Homo sapiens: one gene and its partner. The protein of the gene in region 1 binds, or shares a complex with, the protein of each later gene. Each region holds a gene or a part of one and is shown in the gene's direction. Other genes may lie near its edges. The genes, in order: LRRK2 and RAB29.

Region 1 (8,588 bases):
CCCTTCTTACTTGTCTCTGCTTTGGTGTTCAGAAGTGCCTGATTCTGGCCACCTTCATTCCCTAGACTCTGTACTTGATAGAGTCACTCCTGCTTGATACTGCTCAGGACAGTCAGATCCTGGGTAGGCGTTTTGGTCTGCAGGGTCTAGATAAGGCAGTGCTATACTTGACAACCCAGGGGAGCCTGGAACATACTTCCTAATTCTTAATTTTAGAAATTGCCCAAGCCTGAGCATACTTGTCCGGAGTAGTTATGAGTGTCACTTAGTATTTCTGCCTAGAGAGTACCAGAGGCAAAGTATGCTGGAAAATAAGGAAGAGTTTTTTTAAAAGTAATTAATTACTTTTTTGGATATATCATAGTTGTATATATTTTGGGGATACATATGCTATTTGATACATGTATACAATGTGTAATGTTCAAATCAGGGTAACTGGAATATCCGTCACCTCGAACATTTTTCTTTGTGTTGGCAACGTTGCAATTTCTTTCTTCTAGCTATTTTAAAATATGCAATGAATTATTAACCATAATTTCCCTGCTATACTATTAAATATTAACTTAATTGCTTGTATCTAATTATATTTTTGTACACATTAACCACCTTCTCTTTATCCCTCCCCATCCTTTCATTTCCAGTCTCTGGTAACCACCATTCTACTCTCTTCCTCCATGAGATCCACCTTTTCCGCTCCTACATATGAGTGAGATTATGCAATATTTTATTTCTGTACCTGGCTTATTTAATTTAACCTAATGACCTCCAGTCCCACCCATGCTGTTGCAAATGACAGGATTTCATTTTTTATGACTGAATAATATTCCATTGTGTATGTATACCACATTTTCTTTTATTTTTAGTTAAGTAATTAATTTAGAGACAGGGTCTCACTCTGTTGCCCAGACTGGAGAGCAGTGGTGTGATCAAAGCTCACTGCAGGCCTGCAATCCTGGGCTGAAGTAGTCCTCCTGCCTCAGCCTCCCAGGTAGCTAGGACTATAAGCATGTGCCACCATGCTCAGCTAATTTTTTTTTCTTTTTTTACTTTTTGTAGAGATGGAGTCTTGCTATGTTGCCCAGGTTAGTTTCAAACTCCTGACCTCAAGTAATCCTCCTGCCTCGGCCTCCATATTTTCTTTGTTAATCTGTTGATAGACATATAAGGTGATTCTGTATTTTAACTATTGTGAACAGGGCTGCAATAAACATGGGAGTTCAGATATATCTTTGATATACTGATGTTCTTTTTTTGGATATATACCCAGCGATGAGATTACTGGATCATATGAAAATTCTCTTTTTAGTTTTTTAAGATACCTCCATACTGTGTTTCATCATGGCTGTGCTACTTTATATTCCCATCAGCAGTGTACCACCATTCCCCTTTTTCTGCATCCTTACCAGCATTTGTTATTTTTTGTCTTTTTGATAATAGCCATTCTGCCTGTGGTGAGATAATATCTCATTATGGTTTTGATTTGCCTCTCCCTAATGATTAGTGAAGTTTAGGATTTTTTTTTCATGTACCTGTTAGCCATTTGTCTGTCTTCTTTTGAGAAATGTCTATTTGGATCTTTTGTCCATTTAAAAATAAGACTTTTTTTTTTTTTTTTTTTTTTGCTAATTGAGTTTTTTTAGTTCCTTATGTATTCTGGTTGTTAATCTTTTGTTGAATGGATATTTTGCAAATATTTTCTCCCTTTCTTTATGTTGTCTCTTCACTTTGTTAATTATTTTCTTTGTTGTGCAGAAGCTTTTTAGCTTGATATAATCCCATTTGCCTATTTTTGTTGTAATTGCCTGTGCTTTTGAGGTCCTACCCCAAAAATCATTGCACAGACCAATGTCCTGTAGCATTTCCCCAGTGTTTTCTTCTAGTAGTTGCATATTTTCAGGTCTGAGATGTAAGTCTTTAATCCATTTTGAAATGATTTGTGTATATGGTGAAAGCTGTGGATCTAGTTTCCTTCTTTTGCACAGCCAATATTTGATTCTCACTGAAATCTCACTGCCCTCCTGGAAATATTACCGGATGTTTTACTGTCATAGCGAAGTGAGAGTAAGCTGCTCACTGAGGATCAAAGAGCTTGTGACAGACCTAAGACTCAAGTCTTCTCACACCTTCAAAATCTCTTTCCATCATACAATCTACTAGCTGCTGAATTCGCAAGCTTTTTGTGCAAGCTAGTAAAAAGCAAAATGGTTTGATACAAATACTGTGGCCATGCTAGGTACAATGACATCAATTTAAATTATCATTGGTCTTAACAAGGGGATGTAGAAAGGGGTCTCCTACTGACATTTTAATACTCACTTAAAAGTAGTATTTTTCCTTCAGATTTCTTTATATTATTAGTATAATTACTGTAAGTATCCTTTACTGCTTTATATGTTGAATTAGCTGGAAGTGCCAAAAGAAAAACTCTTAATGATAAATTTAAGGTATTAAGGTAAATTTCTCCTTCATTTAATTTAATAGTAATTCTTAATTACTATTTAAAATAAAGATTAAGGTTTGTTTCTAGATGCCATTTAACATGATATTCCAGACTGCCAGTTTTATTTTCAAAGTTTGTTTCATATTTTATTAATGTTTCTTCATAAATGACAGTCTTTAGAAAATTGACGGTTAAGCTAGGTGCTTTATATTTTTCTTTTCCTGCCTATCTTTTCACTGTGCTCCTAAATTTTACATCTCTTTATTCTCAAGGGTTCAACCTTTGAAGAAGGGGAGCAAAATAAATGAAAGTGGCTAAAATTTTTTCTTTAACCCCTAGACTCTTTCCTGTTGTGCATTAATTACATGCTTGAGTTTTTAGAATAATTATAATAAAGTAAAACTACCAATTTAATTGTATTGTAACTGTGCAAGATGGGAACCTTCTCTCTTAGAGAGATAAGCTTTTAATTGAATAGATTAATGGATCAATTGTTACCTCTGCTTTGCTGCCAGAGATTCTATTTAATCACAGAAGTTCCATGTAGTGCTGGAGAGCTCAGTTGCCTGAATCTTTTTGCAAAGCGTTTACTGATACTGTTGCTTCACCAACCAAAACAAACAGGTTTTTTCCTTGAGTCAGCTTTGTAGGTACAGAGATGAGTTTGGCATCCTATGTGACTTTTTTTTTTTTTTTTTTTTTTTTTTTTACCACCAGAAGCTGTTCAGAATGTTATTTTCTTAAATAGTTCGGAAAAAAGTCTTGATGTATTCTATGAAAGCACAAAAATAGTCAGTTTCTATGACAGCTGGATTGTCAACGTCTGTTCAGCTTACGTGGAGGAGGATGTCCTACTTGAGTAGTATAGGTAGAAATAGCTATCAGAAATTGCCGCCTTTGAAAGCAATTTGAAATTATGTAAAAGGAAGTAATGACAAAATAAAGCAATTTATGTTTAATCTGGAAAAGATCCAAAAGTAATATTGTAAAGAGATCTTGAGTAATCATTTTTATCTTCCTAAAATAGCCGTTGTTTACTCCCGTAAGCGAGTAAGAAACTTGTGCCATTATTCCTTATTGGGTGCATATAGATTTCTCACCTTGTCATTCAACTCCTTGCAATATTCAACTTTACTTATGCATCCAGCCTTATCCCAAAATAGCCTCTTCCCTGTAGCAGCTTCCTTATCATGTAGCAGCCTACTCTCCTCACCGCTCATCCGTTCTTATACAATCTGGCTTAAGCTCTACCTCTTCATATTATATTCTTCTCTGAGTAATTTCAACTCACACTGAGTCTTACTTTCAGTATTTCTATTATATTGGTATTTATTACACATCACACTTAGATACTTTTCCATTAGTCTCTAGAGGGTACATATATGCACTTTCTCTTTTTTTTTTTTTTTTTGACCATGTCAAGTATAGTTCTATAGTATAATAGAATGAATTGGAGATCCTTTACATTTAGAGAGGGAGGAGTCTACAGTAGGAAGAATAGGTTAATTTTCATCTCCGGTTTGAAATCAGGACTTTCAATTTTTTTTTCAGAGGTAAAGAGCAACTTAGTCAAGTTGGCATCTTGTAAACAGACTGAGTGAAGATATACTTAAAATGCATCTATAATTTCATATTTTATTTCGAAATGTGAAAGAGCCTACTAGGGGTGTCTGTGATCTCTAGACCTTATCAATTCATTCTAGAGAAATCTGGAGGGAGCCATTGAGGAGTTCTACCTCCTGTCTATTTTATAGAGCTCTTTCTCTTTTTCTCCTATCAGATGTAGATTCAATTGCTAAAAATGCCACGTTTCTTGCCTCTATTATTCTAGCTTCATTACTTGGGGAGCAGCCATTCTGATAACTTACATTTTGCTACTAAAATCTCCAACTTCACCTAATCCTTCATTATAAGCCACTTCATTTTTTCCTATAATTAAAATTTTAAATATGTGGAGGAAATTCTGTCAGGTAGATATGACTTAAAACCTACTAAGGGCCAGGTGCAGAGGCTCACGCCTGTAATCCCAGCACTTTGAGAGGCCAAGTCAGGAGGATTGCTTGAGCCCAGGAGCTTGAGACCAGCCTGGGCAACAGAGCGAGACCCCTGTCTTCACAAAAAAAAAAAAAAAAAAATTAGCTGGGTGTGGTGGCACATACCTGTAGTCCCAGCTACTTGGGAGGCTGAAGTGGGTGGATCACCTAAGGACAGGAGTTCTAGGCTGCAGTGATCTATGATTGCACCATTGCACTCCAGCCTGGGTGACAGAGTGAGACCCTATCTCAAAAACAAAAACAAAACCAAAAAAAAAAAAAAAACAAGAAAAAAAAAGTACTAAGGATCTGGTATAGCCATTCTTGCACTTAATAATCTTGGTACAACCTCTAAAACTATTTTTTATAGTTTATTTTATTTTGCCTTATTTAGACAATTGGCATGTCTATGTTCTTCATAATTTAGAAATTATATGTATTTATATATATAAATTATATATATTATATATTATGTATAAATTAAATTATATATATATATAATATATATATATTTGAAATGGATTCTTGCTCTGTCATCCAGGCTAGAGTGCAGTGGCACAATCTTGGCTCACTGCACCCTCTGCCTCCTGGGTTCAAGCGATTCTCCTTCCTCAGCCTCCCGAGTAGCTGAGATTACAGGCGCCCATCACCATGCCTGGCTAATTTTTGTATTTTTAGTAGAGACTGGGTTTCACCATCTTGGCCACATTGGTCTCAAACTGCCGGCTGAAATGTTGTATTTTTTGTATGTCTTTCTGGTATGATTTTTGGAGAAAGGTGTATCCTAAGAATACGGCTTGCTTTTGTTTCTGGGTAAGCATTTTAGGGTATCATTTTGTTGTATAACCATTGTTTACAAGTGAGATAAGCATCTATTCCACTAAGATTGAAGAGATTCATGTTTGACTGAGTATGCTCTATTAACATTCTTTAAAACATGTGAATATATGTCTTTCTTGTTTTCAGGTGGGTTGGTCACTTCTGTGCAAATTAATAGAAGTCTGTCCAGGTACAATGCAAAGCTTAATGGGACCCCAGGATGTTGGAAATGATTGGGAAGTCCTTGGTGTTCACCAGTAAGTATGATAGATATGTAAAACAAATGGCCTTGAGTATTTATTTGTACACATGACAACCTTCCCTTGATACACTGTGTTTGCAATCCAAGGCTACTCCTGTGGAATTCTTTAAAATACAGATATTTTTCCTTGAGTCAATGATTTACATTTATAGAGAGCTTTAAACTCAGAAGTTTGATTTAGAAAGCAAACATTTAAGGTAACATGTCAGAAGTTATTATTTTAATAATATAATCATATAATTATAAAACTGGTTAAGTTGTAGATTTTTGATGAGTACTTTTGAATTCAAACCATGAAGAGATTTTGGCTTTTAATAATAGAATCGATACAAACCACTAGTTCTTAAAAAAATGGGAACTGAGAAAAGTTAGTTCTGTAAGTAGTAATTTGAAAGTTGATGTTCTACTGTCTTTAAATAGTACATTTATATATATATTCCTATATATACAGTAAGTTTAAACTATGGCTTTCAGAAAGAGTTAAGAAAGAGGAAATTAACTTTCAGCACATCTGTAGCCAAATCTTGATAGTAATTTTACCAGCTATGTTTTTGCAGTTTGCAGCATAATGGCTTCTTAGATGAGACTACTTCCTTAGCCATCATTAATTAAGAAAATATTTTCTCAAGAAGAATGTGTTTCCAGGAAAATACATTTTGGATAGCTTTGTTTCTTGACAGTTAAAAAATATCTTCTAAGCTACTGAGGAGGCTGAGGAAGGAGAATCACTTGAACCTGGGAGGCGGAGGTTGCAGTGAGCGGAGGTTGCAGTGAGCCGAGATTGCACCACTGCACTCCAGCCTGGGTGACAGAGCGACACTCTGTCTCAAAAACAAACAAACAAACAAACCTTTTGTCATTAACTTTAAATCTTTTTTATACCTAATATGACTTTTCTTTATCACAGAAAAGGAAATTGTGAATATTTTTTGGCTTCCAATGGTATATGGTTTATGAAAATTTAATTTATGAAAAATTTTCAGGTGTTTGTATTGCTGATCAGTGTCAAGTAGTGCTATAAATTTAGACAAATTAGAGCTATGTGTTTGTCCATAAGTGAACATGTCTGTGCTTATACATTTTCCCCTCTTTGACAAATGTGTTGCTCTTCTTGTTTTCAGTACATAAAGGGTGTGTTTTGGAAAGAGCATATTTACAATTAATTGGAGTTCTCGTCTTCAATCTAATCTCTGTAATTCTATGTATCAGTTCTAAAGTATACAGCATTTGATGAGGAATTACTCAAAATATACCAGTAATTAGGAATTGTAACTTTAAATGTCCCTTGGTTTGGGTGATAATTTCCAGGAAGTCCAAAGATGAGCCAGTCTATAACCTCAGGGAGTGTTTGGGAAACTCATCTAGTCATATTCCTGTACAAACCAACTGTTCAAATTAAATTACATAAAAGTTTATGTAGGAAATTTCATTCACTCACTCACTTACTCATTCACTCACTTTGTTCATCCAGTCATTCATCTTCTATTCATTGAATGTTTTTGAAGCCTGTCCTCTGGGTCAGAAACCATGCAGTTGTGAAGAAGATAGACACACTGCTGTCTCCAGTGGAGTGTATTAGATCACTCCCAGCAAAAATTGATTGTAAAACAGATTTCTCTTTTTTCAAGGCCTTTTCCCTCCAAAGACTTACCAGTACTGAAGAAAAATTTCTTCCGTGGTAATAAAGTCAGGAATTGTGGGAATGGTATAGGGAGAGGTAGGGGCAGGGTGATTAGGAGGAAGGCTGGCAGAGAATCGAAGACTGGCTTCATTCAGGTCCTCCAATTGCCAAATGGAGATTATGCAACGTTTCTTGAATACATACAAAACTCTAGATGTGGCCAGCTCAGTCTTCTTCCAATAATGTAAAGCCAAACAATGCTTTGCAGGAATAGACTAGAGATTATATTTTGGGATTAATAACATAGGGATTAAAATCTTATCTTGAACTAACTAAACATTATTGATATGCTAAATTCACTTTTTTTTTTTTTTTTTTTTTTTTTTTTTAGACAGAGTCTTTCTCTGTTGCCAGGCTGGCGTGCAGTGGCGTGATCTCGGCTCACTGTAACCTCTGTGTCCCGGGTTCAAGTGATTCTCCTGCCTCAGCCTCTCGAGTAGCTGGGACTGCAGGAGTACGCCACCACGCCCAGCTAATTTTTGTATTTTTAGTAGAGACAGGGTTTCATCATGTTGGCCAGGATGGTCTTGATCTATTGACCTCATGATCCCCCCGCCTCGGCGTCCCAAAGTGCTGAGATTACAGGCGTGAGCAACGGCCACCGGCCCACTACTTTTTAATATATCATTAATTTCTCTTTTAAAAACAGTAGCAATCAATAATTTAAATATTCAAATGAATTCTTAATTTATATACACAAACTAACATCTTTATTATATCTCTATATTTTAATATATCAACATGTCTAAGATAATTTATAAATTTACATCATATATAAAAATGGGTTTGCTCTCGATGTATATAAGGCTTCATGATATTTTGAATATGGAGTTGGGTGAAAATAGTGAATCTGAATATTTGAATTTGAATATTTATTGGAAAATAAGTAGTGCTTTTAACTTTTTAAATGAGACACATAATAGTCCCCTGTTGATTTTTTTTTATTTTTTTAACTTTATTAAAGTATAGTTGACAATTAAAAATTGTTTATATTTAAGGTATACAATTGATGATTTGACATGTGTACATTGTGAATTATTCACCACAATCAAGCTAATTAACATTCCCTGTTAGTTTTTATAAGCCTGGTTCAGGTTTGTAGAAAGAAACAAACACACATGGCCAGGCACGGTGGCTCACACCTATAATCCCAGACTTTGGGAGGCCAAGGCAGGAGGATCACTTGAACCCAGAAGTTTAGACCAGCCTAGGCAAAATAGCAAACCCTGTCTCTCCAAAAAAGAATGAAAAAATTAGCCTGGTGTGGTGGCATGTACCTGTATCCCTAGCAACTCAGGAGGCTGAGGCAGGAGGATTGCTCACTTGAGCCCAGGAGTTTGAGGTTTCAGTGAG
Region 2 (8,760 bases), on another chromosome or scaffold:
GCTCACACTTATAATCCCAGCACTTTGGGAGGCCAAGGCAGGCAGATGACAAGATCAGGAGTTCGAGACCAGCCTGGCCAATACGGTGAAACCTTGTCTCTACTAAAAATACAGAACTTAGCAAGGCATAGTGGCACGTGCCTGTAATCTCAGCTACTTGGGAGGTTGAGGCAGGAGAATCACTTGAACCCGGGAGGCGGAGGTTGCAGTGAACCAAGATAGCACCATTGCACTCCAGCCTGGGTGACCAGAGAGCGACTCCCTCTCAAAAACAAAAAAAAGGATAGGCCGGGCGTGGTGGCTCACGCCTGTAATCCCAGCACTTTGGGAGGCCGAGGCGGGTGGATCACAAGGTCAGGAGATCAAGACCATCCTGGCTAACACAGTGAAACCCTGTCTCTACTAAAAAATACAAAAAAAAAAAATTAGCCGGGCGTGGTGGCGGGCGCCTGTAGTCCCAGCTACTCGGGAGGCTGAGGCAGGAGAATGGCGTGAACCCGGGAGGCGGAGCTTGCAGTGAGCCCAGATCGCACCACTGCACTCCAGCCTGGGTGACAGAGCGAGACTCTGTCTCAAAAAAAAAAAAAAAATTAAAAAATTAAAATAAAAAAATAAATGCTACAGGTGACCAATAAAGGCTGCAATAATAAGGGAAATGTTTATAAATAAGTAGATATTTAAGTCAGGCCTTGAAGCACCATTTCTCAAAAGTACTATTTCTCAAAGTGGAATGTGGTGTAGCAATCACATGAGTACTTGTCAAAAATGCAGATTAACCTGGGTCACCCCCTAGCCCTACAGAATCAAAATGTGGGTATTTAACAAGTACCCCAGGTAGGTGATGCTTATGCACACTAAAATTTTAGAACCTTCGGTGACCTTTAAGACAATCCACTCCCACTTAGTGAATAATATAGTTTCTCTTCCTTTTGATTTTCTTAATAATATTTAAGTAAGATTTAGATGTGTAGAAAGAAACCTGAAGAGTATTCTGAAAGGTGATGCATCCTGGACAAAAACAGAAAATCAAAAATGACATTGGGCTTTAAAAGAGCATAAGGAACCTCACCTTGTTGGAAGAAGGAAACTCCCATTTGAAGTCGGGTGAGATAAAATTGGTTAGGTAGGCCGGGGCAGGTGCATAGAAAGCTTTGGACACCAGCTTCAGGGAGGTTGGCCTTTTTTTTTGAAAGACAGTTGGTAGACAAGGAAGAACAAACAATGGTGTTTTAGGAAAACCATCCTGTCCAGTTGTAGACGGTGAGTTAAAAAGAAAATAAATTCAGGGAGACCAATAAACAGGTTACTGCAGGAATCCAGGTGTGAGATGGTGAAAGCCTGAACTAGGAAAGTGTTACTTGCTGATTACCTGGGTGACAAAATTATCTGTAAGCCAAACTCGCGCAACATGCAGTTTACTCGTGTAACAAACCTGCACATGTACCCCTTGAACCTAAAATAAAAGTTGGAGAAAAAAAAAAAAGGAAAGTATTACTGAATATGAAGCAGAGAGGATGAGTGGGAGAAACCATTTACTGAAGAAACAATCAATCAGACATGGTAACTGAATTTTTTTTAAAAGGGTATAGACCAGGTGCGGCGGCTCACGCCTGTAATCCCAGCACTTTGGGAGGCTGAGGCGGGTAGATCACTTGAGGTCAGGAGTTCAAGACCAGCCTGGCCAACATGGTAAAACCCTGTCTCTACAAAAAAAATACAAAAATTAGCCAGGCTTGGTGGTATGCGCCTGTAGTCCCAGCTACGCAGGAGGCTGAGGCACAAGAGTTACTTGAGCCCAGGAAGCAGAGGATGCACTGAGCCAAGATCATGCCAATGCACTCCAGCCTGGACAACAGAGTGAGACTCCATCTCAATAAACAAACAAACAAATAAATAGGTATAAAGGGACATGTGTAAAGGAAATAATAATGCTCAGAATCTGAAGTCTACATGGAGGCAAGAAATGATGAGACCAGTGACAGAAATAGGGAAGCTGAGAAAAGGAGCTATTTTTATGGCAATGTAGTAAGAGGAAGGATGTGGCAGGACATCCAAGTGGGGGCACCTTTTGGGCAGCTGAATATCACTGATCAGAGATAAAGAACAAATAAAGTGTTAATGGTAGCTATGATAGCGGTTATCACCAGTGCCGTGAGTATTCCTTCATTAAGGGCTGACACAGAGAACAATTATACTTATTGGGTATATTTATCAATCTTGGCTGGCAATAATGCCTGGATGCAATCACTTTATGACGCAGTTACACATGCTTTCTGATCTCAGTATTTACCATAATAAATCTGCTCCTATAATTGAGGCATACCGCCCTCAAAAACTTATTTGTAAACAGGATTGGACCCAGTTAGAAAAAATGAACGTACTTGTTTAGGAAGATTGCATTGCAGAACAGGCAGAGATGCTGCACAATGATTCCTATGGAATCATTATTAATTGGTCCCCTAAGGGGATGTTTAGCTTGAATTGCACCTCTCAGTCTGCGTGCCACGGCCACACTATGTTCAGCTGGTCTGAACAAAATGGTCAGATGGTAGATATAATAAGAAGTACAGCAAGAGTTCCTATTATCTGGAACCATGGCAGTATAGTGACACCTCAACCTCAAATGATATGGCCCGCTCTAGGAGCTTAACATAAGGATTTAAAATTAAAAGAAGAAATATTTAAAGCATCCGAGGCACACTTGACCTTAATGCCAGGAACTGGAGTGCTTAAAGGAGCCGAAAATGGATAAAAACACTTGGAAGCTCTGTGATTTCAATGATGATTGTGCTTTTAATCTGTGTTGTTTGTCTTTGTATAGTCTGCAGATGTGTATCCTGACTCCTGCGAGAAGTAGCTCACCGTGACAAAGCTGCCTTTGCATTTATCAATTTGCAAATCAGAGAAGAGGGACATGTTGAGAGCAGGCCCCCCAAAATCTGGCCATAAACTGGCCCCAAAACTGGCCATAAACAAAATCTCTGCAGCACTGTAACATGTTCATAATGGCCCTAACGTCCACGCTGGAAGGTTGTAAGTTTACAGGAACGAGGGCAAGGAACACCTGGCCCGCCCAGGGTGGAAAACCGCTTAAAGGCATTCTTAAGCCACAAACAATAGCATGAGTGATCTGTGCCTTAAGGACATGCTCCTGCTGCAGTTAACTAGCCCAACCTATTCCTTTAATTCGGCCCATCCCTTCGTTTCCCATAAGGGATACTTTTAGTTAATTTAATATCTATAGAAACAATGCTAATGACTGGTTTGCTGTTAATAAATACGTGGGTAAATCTCTGTTCGGGGCTCTCAGCTCTAAAAGCTCTAAAGGAAATCAGACCCCTGATTTCCCACTTCACACCTCTATATTTCTGTGTGTGTGTCTTTAATTCCTCTAGCGCCACTGGGTTAGGGTCTCCCCAACAGAGCTGGTCTTGACAGAATATCACTGATCAGAGATAAAGAACAAATAAAGTGAAGATAGATCTTTGACACCAAGGACAATTCACTAAAGAGTTTATCGAATGATTGACTCAGAGACCAAGAATCAGGCCTTAGGAAATACTTAGCGGGAAATGGGATGGAGAGAAACCTGAAAGAAAAAGATAATCATCAGAGAAGTACGGGGATGACAAAGAAAGAACAGCGTCATAGAAGGCATAAGGGAAACAAATGTCAAGGAGTGGTCAACTATGTCAAAACGAATAAGAACAGAGAAAACTGGATCCTTAAAGATGAGTAGCTTGAACTAACCTCCTGTACCTGGGTAACGAACATTCTGGGCAAAATATATTGTGAACCATGCTGATGTTCTTTCGCCACAAAACATAAGTGATAGCCTCTCTATCAAGAGACCTAGATTTCCTAGTGTCTGGTCCTGGGCTGTTTTCCCATGGCCCCGCTGGTTCTCTTCCTCTATTCCTAGAAAAGTATAGAAAATGGAGCTCTCTTTGCTTGCCATTGAGCTCATGTCCTGCCAACTTCTACCCAAGTGACAGGTAGGTCAGTAAAGTTACAGGCTGAGAAATTAAAATTATTTGCCAAACACTAGTTTTATGATTATCTATTAACAACAGCCACAACAAATCAAGAAGGAGTCCCAGTGTATTTCAATTAGCTTCTAGCTCAAGTGATACATGAGTAGTATGGCTAGAATAGGCATTGTAGAAGTATGAATGGAGAACTGTCTCTTGTTTTCTGTCCATCTTTATTGTTATTGCTGGATATTAAATGCTGTAATTTTTGGCATAGGTTTTTTTCCAAAGACTGGTCTCTTGGGTCAAGTTTTCCTGAACTTGCCTGGTATTGGGCAAGTTCACACAGAAAATATGAGTCATTTCACAAAGTCCTGGGCTTGTCTATCTACTTGAAGGAATAGGAAATGGACTTCACTTGGAGCATGATGGATGAGGCTTGGGCTTTTACTAATGAAATAAGTTTCAATCTTAACTCAGTTAAACCTTTAAAGACAGGAGAAAACTATCTGGGGATGGATTCAGGCCAGTGAGATCACGTTGCACAAATCTCCCCTTAAGGGATCTTTACTGACCTAGAATTGTTTCAAAATAAGATTCCAAACTGTCGAGGGAGTTTGAAGCCTTGAAACTTGGTGTAGGTTTGCTTAAAACAAAATAACGAATATACTACATTTCCCAGGAGGCTTCGCGGTGAGCCTCCGCACTCGGCTGGTTCTCTTTACCGCGAGGAAAGCTGGGAAATGTAGTGCCACAGGCAACCCTGCACGTGACGCTTGCGGAGGAAGGGGAGAGAGAGGCGCGCGGGAGGGCGTCTAGGGAATCGAGGTGCCGGCTGCTCCTTCCTCACAATTTGGTTTGTGCTGCAAGGGGAGGGTCCCCATCATCTGGCCCCAGTGGTGTAAGGAGCTGACTGGGATTCAGTCACTGACTTGGAGCCGCTCGGGGGAAGTCCCGGTGGGTGAGGTTCCGCGGCGCCTGGTCCAGTTTCTCGGCAGTCAGGCCAGGAGGGGGTGGGGAAGGTGCGAACAGCCGGGGGCTCGGAGCTCGCGCCCTGCGCCCCACCCAGGTTGCGGCCGCCCGGGGAGGAAGCGCGTATAGGTTGAGTGCAAAGTTTCCTTTTTTGCTTTCTCGTCAGAGCAGCCCAGACAGGCGGTGGGTGGGAATGCCTCACTTCAGTTTGAAGAGGGTCCGGATCCAAAGGGGTTAAAACGAGCGACCCCCGATCCCCGACCACACTTCCCGCCTCCCTAAAACGCACACCCCGCTAGCCATGGGCAGCCGCGACCACCTGTTCAAAGTGCTGGTGGTGGGGGACGCCGCAGTGGGCAAGACGTCGCTGGTGCAGCGATATTCCCAGGACAGCTTCAGCAAACACTACAAGTCCACGGTGGGAGGTGAGACGTCTCGGGGGTGGGGAGGGGGAGGGGGAGGAGGAGGCCCCGACCGCGGACTCGAGCTGGGGACCCAAGTGGGGTGGGGATTTGCTGTCGGTTGTTGGGTCCTTCTTCGGGTCAGGAAGTACTGTCTGGGAACCTAGATGGTGTAATTGCCGGGTGTTTGGTTTACACGCCTCTCTTGAGTTTCCCGTTAGATTTTCCCAAACTGAGCCCACTGCCAGGAGAAAGGTAAGAGCAAAGGCGTGAAGATGAGAAATAGGGAAGGGAGGATGAGGATGAGCAATTGCTGTTTATTGCAGGCGTACTGTGAACTTAAGTCTCCAGCCTTTCAGCTGTCCGGCAAATCTCTCCAATCAGCAGAAGCAGCTGAGATCCTCTGTGGGGCCTCCTGGTTAGGTGCCGGCTGGGGCTGTAGTCCTGCCCCTCTGTTGAGGGAGGAACCGCAAGGTGTTTAACCTGGCTTCAGTGGGAGAACGCAGGAAGCGGAACTGGTCTGAAGGACTGTAGCTTTGTTGTGGGGCTGTGGGTGGGATGGAAGACACAAAATCCCCGAACGAGCCCCTTGGCTACGCAGTCAGATGCCCATGAGGGCTGATGAGCTGTGTTTTTGTCCGTTGATTGCTTAAATAAAGGTAACCAAGGAATTCTTCCAAGAATGTGAAATATACCACTTCTCTGACCTATCTTCCCACCACTTTTTTCCTCAAACTGGAGAAGGTAGGGAGGAAGGGGACACCGAGTTCATTCATTTCTTTCCCGGGTGTGGCCTTTGGACTCAACTATTTTTTCAGAGGCAGAAATGCCTTATTGTTAATTAGAAGGTATTTAGCTAGGAAGAGCTGGTGATGGGGGAGAGTAACTTAAAATTTTATTTCTCTCTGTTAAAAGAACTTGTTTCAAGGGGGGAAAACTCGTACCAATGGAAAAATTGAAAATGTGTGCTCCTGTTCATATGGAAGTTTAAAAAGAAATTAACAAACATTTACATTGCAATTAAAACATTCTCCTTAAGAACCCCCAGTAGGGCCCAGTACCGTGGTTCATACTTGCAATCCCAGCACTTTAGGAGGCTGAGGCGGGAGGATTGCTTGAGCCCAGGAGTTCGAGACCAGCCATGGGAAACATGGCAAGACCCCCACCTCTACAAAAATTAAAGAAGAAAGTAGCCGTGGTCCCAGCTACTCGGGAAACTGAGACGAGAGGATTGCTTGAACTGGGGAGGTCGAGGCTTCAGTGAGCCCCGTTCGCACCACTCACTGCACTGTAGCCTGGGCAACAGAGTGAGACCCTGTCTCAAAAACAAAGGAACAAAAAATTTAAGTCTGGCAAAATTAAAGGTTCAAAGTTTCAGACACTCTATCCTGACCGCTCTGCCCTCCCACTCCTAAATAATATAAGGGTCCCTATTTCACGGATTTGGGTTAAAAGTGGCCTGCTATTAATAGTTAATTTTTAACAATTGCTGTAGTTTTCCTTTAGCAAAGAATATAATTGGCTAATTTTTTTTTCAGTGTTTAGTCTAAATTTCCCTTAGCTTTGATTCCTGTCACAGATGTGAAAGATAATATTTCCAAACCTCAGAAATTACTCTGTTTCTCTCCTTAGCCAAAAGGCTTTCCCCATGGAATACTTACTCAGCCTTAAGGAGTCTCAGCACCTGCAGACTTGGTGGTAGATTCCAGCAGGACTCTTCAGCAACATCCACACAGTGTCTTCTTCTTGGGACTCCTCTGGGACCTTTTCCATTTATTCCATTCTTGCCCAAGATAATACCTGCAACCTTATGGTGGATGTAGAGTTCCCCAGGGTGTGTTCTTTTCATAATACAATTTGATTAGAAACCAACAGTGAAATTGAATGTGGAAGATACGAAAGCAACCACACTTGTCTCATTTCCCCCTTCTCCCCCATCACCCCTTCCCTGAGAAAACCCCCTAAATCTCCCAGAAACTATTTAACCTGAGAATGAGAATTGTTTTCATAGTTACTCCCACCCCCAGTCTTGGAGACAAACAGTAGCAAATAAATGAGCTTGACAGTAGAGTAAAAGCTGGAAACCCCTTTGGAGAGTGAGTATGAATCATCCATCTCACACTAAATACACGCATGTGGACTCATCTCAGTGAATTGAGGGCTTAAAGTTAAACATATGGGATTGGAGTTGTGTGTCCATAGGGTTTCACTGCCTATTTGATTTGAGTTTATCCCTATTAATTTTTTACAGTGAAATTTTATTAAAGTATAATGTACATATATTTTCAGTGGATTTTGCTCTGAAGGTTCTCCAGTGGTCTGACTACGAGATAGTGCGGCTTCAGCTGTGGGATATTGCAGGTAAAGTGGGAGGGCTAGATAGGAACAAGGGAAGAAATTTTGATTTAACTAGAAAGCTCTGAGGAAAAAATGGGGCAGCAAAGCCAGAAATTGTTTTTCTGAAGCTGGAATGATTGAGCTGCTCTGAGGACACATGAGCTGAATAGGTGCAGAGCTTTTGTAGATGTTTTGCCCTGAATAGATCTGGAGCAGTCTCTATGTGGATGGAGGGGCTGGCAAGGTGGTGGATTGTCCAGACTATAGGTGGACACTCCCACAGCAGGGGAGGGTGCTTTTTCTAGGTTTAAGGCTGACCTTGGTGAAAAACAAGATCCCCAGAAAATAGATACAGTAAAAATAGTGAATCCTTACTATGTGCCAAGCATTCTTCTAAGTATTTTAAATTCACTGACTCATTAATCCTCACATCAACCCTATCATAAAAGCTACTGCTTTTGGAGAATTGCTTGAACCTGGGAGGTGGAGGTTGCAGTGAGCCTAGATGGCACCACTGCACTCCAGCCTGGGCAACAGGAGTGCAGGAAACTGTTTCAAAAAAAAAAAAAAAAAGCGACTGCTTTTATCTTCACTTTACAAATGAGAAATCTGAAGCACTGAGAGCTTGATTTGCCCGAAGTCAAATAGTATGCAGCAGAGCAGGGATTTGGACTGGAGCAATCTGGGTGCGGAATCTGCCTTGGAAATAATTGGGCTTCATTATCCCTTTATGGGATAGAAAACCAAGAGTCAGAGGGGGAAAGTGAGTGGCCCCATCTGACACATATGCTTACTGCCCTCTTCTACAAGGAATGGGGAGAGGCCGGCTCTTGGGTCACCTTGAGAACTCTCCCCTTTCTCCCCAGGGCAGGAGCGCTTCACCTCTATGACACGATTGTATTATCGGGATGCCTCTGCCTGTGTTATTATGTTTGACGTTACCAATGCCACTACCTTCAGCAACAGCCAGAGGTGGAAACAGGACCTAGACAGCAAGCTCACACTACCCAATGGAGAGCCGGTGCCCTGCCTGCTCTTGGCCAACAAGGTATGTGGCCAATCTCAGAAAATGGTCCCTA

The links.
Region 2: the proteins of LRRK2 (region 1) and RAB29 are in contact, whole or in part, in a cryo-EM structure (PDB 8FO2), measured with the Homo sapiens proteins. Residues at the interface, in NP_940980.4 of Homo sapiens: Arg361, Lys362, Arg399, Met402, Leu403, Leu406, Met407, His408, Leu437, Ser438, Lys439, Gly440, His442, Leu443, Asn444, Glu447; in NP_001129134.1 of Homo sapiens: Leu7, Val42, Asp43, Phe44, Ala45, Leu46, Arg58, Gln60, Trp62, Leu76, Tyr77.

Annotation. Positions count from the first base shown.
Region 1 is NC_000012.12:40,226,835-40,235,422, forward strand, and holds part of LRRK2 (leucine-rich repeat serine/threonine-protein kinase 2), read left to right. Parts: intron 1-5,439; coding exon 5,440-5,549; intron 5,550-8,588. UniProt on the Homo sapiens protein: Serine/threonine-protein kinase which phosphorylates a broad range of proteins involved in multiple processes such as neuronal plasticity, innate immunity, autophagy, and vesicle trafficking.
Region 2 is NC_000001.11:205,771,441-205,780,200, reverse strand, and holds the start of RAB29 (ras-related protein Rab-7L1), read left to right. Parts: upstream 1-4,718; 5' UTR 4,719-4,928; exon of another isoform or gene 4,929-5,114; 5' UTR 5,115-5,244; coding exon 5,245-5,368; intron 5,369-7,633; coding exon 7,634-7,705; intron 7,706-8,547; coding exon 8,548-8,729; intron 8,730-8,760. UniProt on the Homo sapiens protein: The small GTPases Rab are key regulators in vesicle trafficking. Essential for maintaining the integrity of the endosome-trans-Golgi network structure.